Homo sapiens: one gene and its partner. Changing the gene in region 1 together with any one later gene gives a genetic interaction. Each region holds a gene or a part of one and is shown in the gene's direction. Other genes may lie near its edges.

What was found. A genetic interaction does not mean that the proteins touch.
Region 2: changes in DHFR (region 1) and CDC73 are lethal when combined (synthetic lethality), as found in Homo sapiens cells (one large-scale study listed by BioGRID).

The regions. Positions count from the first base shown.
Region 1 is NC_000005.10:80,637,946-80,641,634, reverse strand, and holds part of DHFR (dihydrofolate reductase), read left to right. Parts: intron 1-3,625; coding exon 3,626-3,689.
Region 2 is NC_000001.11:193,230,031-193,233,719, forward strand, and holds part of CDC73 (parafibromin), read left to right. Parts: intron 1-2,962; coding exon 2,963-3,124; intron 3,125-3,689.

The DNA.
Region 1 (3,689 bases):
CCTCATTTCAATATTGTTGTGTCTCAGGGAATTGGGAGGCCAGAAGAGGGGGAGAGAAACAGGAATAGCCAGTTAGTGGAGCTGTCAGAACACATAACATGTATCGATTCACCATCTTAAAAGGGCATGATTTATGGCACCCCATAACAGTTACTTGCAACAGTAACAGCAAGATCCCCAAAACGTATTTTAATAATGAAAAAGCCTGAAATATTGTGGAAATTACCAAAAGGTAACAGAGATAGAAAGTGAACACATGCTGTTGGAAAAACTTCACCAGTAGACCTGCTCAGTGCAGGGTTGGCACAAACCTTCAATTTGTAAAAAAGAAAAACACCTTTATATCTGTGAAGCACAGTAAAATGAGGTATGGCTTAGTAGGGAACCCCATTTTTAAAGGCTCAGTATGAAGGGTCTTAAATTGAAGATGTATTTTTGCGTTCTGGTTAAGACACTATTCCATTTCAGGGTTTTTTGTTTTTAAGTGGTTTCCCAACACTCCTCAGGGAAATTGAGCAAGAATTCCATCGGCAGTCCTCACATCAGGAACAGTGAAAAAGGATAATGTTTATATGGCACCCGAGATAATCAGATAAGGCCAGAAGACAAGAGTCAGAGGGTTCTGCCTAATCTAAGCCCCACCATCCTGATGTTTAAGGGCCCCTGAATCGGAGGACCCTGCCACAGGCACCAACTGAAGTCTTTTGTCCATGTAACAAATTGCAGCTCAAGTTTCAAAGTCAAATCTGTTGGAGTTCAACTCGGAGGTCCATCATTTCCCGGCTGTGTGACCAGTAGTTTCTTAACCATTCAGCCTCAGTTTCCTCATCTATAAAAAGGAATGATAGTACCACGTACAATTGCCAGTTAAATGCAGTGTGTACATTATCTCATTTAGTCTTCATGCAAACCTTCAAGACTCAATCACAAAGAAATGTCCACACATTTCTTAACAAAGAATACATATGCTACTACATACCAACTCTCCTTTGTCAGGGAATCCAATCTAGATTGGTTTAAAATAATTATAGGAAAGAAATTCAGCAGTGAAATATGTGACTATATTGGATGCTTGCTATTTGTCATTTACTGTATTTCTAGCGCTTGTGCCATGTAAGGGCTGATGAACTCAAACCGTAGCTCAGCTTTTTGCATGCTCTTTTTTACCCACCTAGAGGTCCAGTGTTTCCTGTGATACTTACCTCTAAACTGCTAAATAGCCACATTTTACGGAAGCATATTCTTCATACCTTTGCTCTAACTTAAATCTCTAACTTTGCACTATATTTAATATGGGTTTTTTGGGGGGAAGGGGGGAGTGGAGTTGGTTTTTTTTGAGACAGAGTCTCGCTGTCTCGCCCAGGCTGGAGTGCAGTGGCACAATCTCAGCTCACTGCAAACTCTGTCTCCTGGATTCAAGCGATTCTCCTGTCTGAGCCTCCCAAGTACCTGAGATTACAGGCACGTGCCACCACACCCAGCTAATTTTTCTATTTTTAATAGAGACGGGGTTTCACTTTGTTGGCCAGGCTGGTCTGGAACTCCTGACCTCCCGTGATCCGCCCATCTCAGCCTCCCAAAGTGCTGGGATTACAGGCGTGAGCCACCACACCTGGCTAATCTGTTCTTCACTTTCTTTTCTATACTCACTACAAAAAAGGGCAAGGAAGTCTTCACAGCTGCACTTACTAACACCGTCACGGCTCTGTTTTGGCCATCATCTGTTTATTAACTAAACTCTCTTCTCTCCCAACTCCAAATCTTTGTTTCTTCTAGATTGAGTTCTCTCCCTGAAGAGCCTAATCCAACCTGGTCCCTGTAACTGCCCTGATACCTTAGGAGATACCTGGGCTTATTTAACTTCTCTCTGGCCACCATGTCTTTTTCCAGCCTGAGTCAAAGTATATTCTTTGCTCTAACCTAATTCTTTTAAGAATGACAGAGTAAAATAAGTAAAATTTATATGAGGAGGGAGAGGGAGGAGGCAATCAAGAGAATGAATAGTCCCTATTCTTGATTAATCCTTATTATAACTATGAGTTCAAGGGCAATTATATAATCTTGTTAAAGCACCAGGCTAAAAACTTGACATGGAATTGTAATTTCTGTTGTGTATCTAATTACTATGAAAGCCTAGTTCTACCTGTTTCATCATTTATAAAGGGAATTGCAACCCCCACCACGACCAACAAAGTAGTTTCAGAGATTGGGAGGGACTAAGCTAGTCAATGTAAACCAAGCTTGTCCAGCCCATGGCCCGCAGGCCTCAGTGTGGCCCAGGATGGCTTTGAATGCTGCCCAACACAAATTAGTAAATTTCCTTAAAACATGCACAGATCTTTTTTTTTTTAAAGCTCATCAGCTATTGTTAATGTTTGTGTATTGTATGTGTGGCCCAAGACAATTCTTCTTCCAATGTGGCCAAGAGAAGCCAAAATATTGGACCACCCCTGAGTAAACACTGAAATTAATTAACTTCTTCCCTTTTGGATTTTAATTACATAAGTAATAATAAGCTCATTTTTTAATACTTCACCCATTCCTGTATTGTTTGAAACATAAATCCTTTCCCCATTCCCAAAGGTAACAACATATTAACAGTCTGAATGTCATTCCAAGCTTTTCTGCAGTCATTCAAACATATCACTCTTTTTCTAATATTAGGAAAATCTTCACACATACAGAAAGAACTTTACAGTAAACTCACCACCTAGATCTACCATTAACATTTTACTCTACTAGTTTCATCACATTTCATCCATCAATTGGTCTTGTTCATTTTTGCATTTCATAATAAACTGCAGACATTAGTATATTTCCACCTAAATACTTCATCATTCATACCATTAATGATTCAGTCTTGGCCGGGTGCGGTGGCTCACGCCTGTAATCCCAGAACTCTGGGAGGCCAAGGCGGGCAGATCAGCAGGTTAGGAGATTGAGACCATCATGGCTAACACGGTGAAACCACGTCTCTTCTAAAAATACAAAAAATTAGCCGGGCGTGGTGGCAGGCACCTGTAGTCCCAGCTACTCAGGAAGCTAAGGCAGGAGAATGGCATGAACCTGGGAGGCGGAGCTTGCAGTGAGCTGAGATCGCGCCACTGTACTCCAGCCTGGGCTACAGAGCAAGACTCCGTCTCATTCATAAATAAATAAATAAATAAAATGATTCAGTCTTTCTTTACAGTTTTTTTCTGAAGTAAATATTACATGAGACACACGTCTTAAATGTACATTTGCTAAGTTTTGATAAATGTATACACCTGTGTAACCCCAGCCCTATCAAAGATACAGAATATTACCTATCACCCCCAGAAAGTTCTCTCCTGCCCTGTCCAAGTTAATCTTTATCCCACCCCTCCAGAAATAACTACTATTCTGATGTTTTTCCACCAGAGATATCACAAGATATCACATGGTTTTATGATTCATTGTGAACCACAGATGTACAAATATAGGTTAAATTATTGGTCAGAGGCCATACTGATGTTAAGTGCTTTTTGTTGAAAGGATTCATATTTATGATGATTTTAGTTCTATAGTCACTGCATCTTAGTCAGATTATTTGACTAGTATGGATGGATTTTACAAACATTTTGTGGAATTCTTTTTTTAACCTTAGGGAACCTCCACAAGGAGCTCATTTTCTTTCCAGAAGTCTAGATGATGCCTTAAAACTTACTGAA
Region 2 (3,689 bases), on another chromosome or scaffold:
TAAATTTTATGTCAATAAAAATGTTGTATATTCAAAAATACACTAAAATGAAGCAGTGGAGTGCAGATTTGATGTTTGAATTCTTCCGCATTAGAGGAATGACATTCCCATTCTTTTTTTTTTTTTTTTTTCTCCTGAGGCAGAGTCTCACTCTGTCCCCCAGGCTGGAGGGCAGTGGTGTGATCTCGGCTTGCTGCAACCTCTGCCTTCTGAGATCAAGTGATTTTCCTGCCTCAGCTTCCAGAGTAGCTGGGATTACAAGCGCACGCCACCACACCTAGCCAATTTTTGTATATTTAGTAGAGACGGGATTTCACCATGTTGGCCAGACGTCTCGAACCCCTGACCTCAAATGATCCACCCACCTTGGCCCCCCAAAGTGCTGGGATTACAGGCATAAGCCACTGCACCTCGCCCTAATCCCGTATTTTTTTTTTTTTTTTTTTTTTTTTTTTGCAAAGCAACAACCAGGAGCTTTATGGAACCTAAAAATGGAAGATAGCAATAGTAGATGAACCTATTTTGCCTGAGATACATATGAAACAATTGCCTATCACACACCCAGCAGTGCAGCCCAAGCCAGAAGAAATAACCAGTTTTCTGGAGGGATGATGACTGTGATTTATGTAGAATATCATAGTTTAATTGGCAGTAGTTTTTTCCTTTCATAGTGGTACAATATAATGGTGTAGCTCACAATCATTGTGTCTTAGATTTGATGAACTGCAGTAGGGTGAACAGGTAAAATTATATTGACTCTGTGGAATACTAATCTTTTTAGTAGACTTAACTTTAGGGAAGAGGTCATAAGATCTATCCTTATGTTTTCAAATGAGATCCTTGCTGAAAAGCGTTTTGAAATAAAGCCTTTTTTATTGCTAATAGAGATGACTAATTCTAAGAAAATACGTAGATATAATCAGAAATTAACATGCTACAGCATCTAAAAATTCTAGGACGGTGGTTAATTGTAAAAACCACGTTAATGTTTCTGAGCTTTTATAAAACATATCAACCAATGTGTAGACCTGCAAAAGTTGAAATAGGTGTATAATAGACTTTTTATTAGTTTGGTATTGTAATAGATCACTCATTTGTATGTATTTTGCATTCTAGTCATATGATTATAAGTAATTTTGTTTATAAGTTTATAAGTAATTTTGTACAAGTAAATTTAAACTTTAACACCATGTTAAAATTTCAGAAGCCAGAAAAGAGGGAGATGCAGTCTTATATTTAACAACTTAAAACAGTTTAAATCCCATGTAGTTATAGACTGAGATAAAACAAAGCATTTCTCTTGGCAGTAGAATCCCTTTGTTCTGTGTGTGTGGAACATAAGTTCAAGAGGGCAGGGACTATGTTTTGTACAACTATGTATATTATAAAACTTATAGCACAATGTATTGCACATACTATTAAAACATTTTTGTTGTGGCTTTTTATTAGAATGCAATTTCAAACAATGCACACATATTAAATTTTCTAAATAATGTGTTTCATTATTCAAAGTATTAGTACTGTCTGGCATTTTCTAAGTGAGCTTGATTAATAAATAAACCAAATGCCATAGGAAGCAAATGATTATCTGGGGGAAATTTTTAAATGATATAGAAATCTTAACTTTTTAACCAAATGTAAAATGGATGTGAGAACAATCAGCTCAGAAGCAAAGTTCAGTATCATCATTATCACCATGAACTAAAAACTTTCTAGACAATAAAATTAGTATTATGTGATGAATCCAATATGTGTAATTGAAGTTTTTCAGAGAACTCTAATTAGTGCAAGTTCTCCTGTGCTTTTTGGTCCTTTCACCCTTTCATCTCTTTTAAACTTTAGAAGCAGAATGATACTCTCAATATATTGATTGTATTCCCTCCATTTTATTGGAGAGACTAGATCATAGTTAATAAAATATGTTATTGGACTGTTAGGATTATGTATATATTTAGAAAATAAGACTTTTAAAATACTTTGTGAACACTAGCAAATTTTACAGGTGGTAATAGCTATCCAGATTGCTAAGTTATTTTTAAGAATATCTGTCTTGAGAATGGATCCACATAAGTAAGTTGATAAATGCCACTAGTTGATAATAATAGCAGGTTATCAGCATGCACTGATTTAATTTTCATACTTTAAAATTTTCAAGGCTACTCTGAAGTTTGATGGTATTTTTGTAATTTTGCTGAAGCATAAAATCTTAAAAAAAAAAAAGTTTTATGAAGCTCCTGGATAGGCTAAGTCGTAAAGAAGCCTACTAGCCACAACAACTTTTTCATTTCAAATGACCTTTTGATTTCTAATAAAATTCCTCTTTATCATGAAGTTTTCCTCTAATAGAATTTGAGAAATTAAGTATTAGTGTGGAAAATGCTAAGTGCTAGTTGAATGAATATAAATTGTGTGGTGTTACACACACATACACACACACACACACACCCAACTTAGGGTCTGAGTGAGCTTGAGTTCTATTTGGTATACAGAGGAAAGACCTATACACTCCATGATCTGTACTTGCAGAGCAGGTTTATTTAAAAACAAACATCTTTAGTTTAAAACTAATTAATGTTTAAAAATTATTTCAGACCGGGCGTGGTGGCTCATGCCTGTAATCTCAGCACTTTGGGAGGCCGAGGCGGGTGGATCACAAGGTCAGCAGTTCGAGACCAGCCTGACCAACGTGGTGAAACCCCATCTCTACTAAAAATACAAAAAAATTAGCTGGGCGTGGTGGCGGTCACCTGTAATCTCAGCAACTTGGGAGGCTGAGGCAGGAGAATCGCTTGAAACCAGAAGGTGGAGGTTGCAGTGAGCCAAGATTGCACCACTGCACTCTAGCCTGGGCAATAAGAAAAAACTCTGTCTCAAAAAAAAAAAATATTTCAAATTATAGTTTATCTTCCCATTTTCATCACGTGGAATACATTGACTTTTTCTCATCTCTGTTTTTTCAAAGATTTGTCCCATCAGATGAAAAGAAGAAACAAGGTTGTCAACGAGAAAATGAAACTCTAATACAAAGAAGAAAAGACCAGATGCAACCAGGGGGCACTGCAATTAGTGTTACAGTACCTTATAGAGTAGTAGACCAGCCCCTTAAACTTATGCCTCAAGACTGGTAAGATAGTCTCTATATATATATCTTTTCACAGGTGTTGAACCCAAGAGAATGAATGTTGTTATTGCCGTTGATGACGTTGCTTTTTAAGAGATGGGGTCTCACTATGTTGCCTAGGCAGAACTTGAACTCCTGGGCTCTGTCAGTCCTCCTGCCTCAGGCTCCCAAATAGCTAGGACTACAGGTGCATGCCACTGCACCTGGCAGCCTATATTTTTTAAATATTCGTTTGTTTTCTGTATATTGTTGGTTGTTTTTTCTCATGTGAGCAATTATCAAATTTTATCATGGGTTCTAAATAGAAACTGTCTTTGAAAAGTGTGTTGATGTATATTTACTTTGGTCATCAATAATGTTAACATTCTAATAATTCCTCAATAACTTTATATTTTGGATAAGTAAACTTGATTTTACTTATAAGAAGAAACATTCCAACTTCTGGAAAACCCAGTGTAAAAAATTCTTTCCACTTGTTCATTTGTTCCGGATCAGCTTGTAGAACCCAGCAAATTAGGCTAATGTAAGGTATTCTATGTTTAGATTTTTGGTTTGGAGAATTTCAATT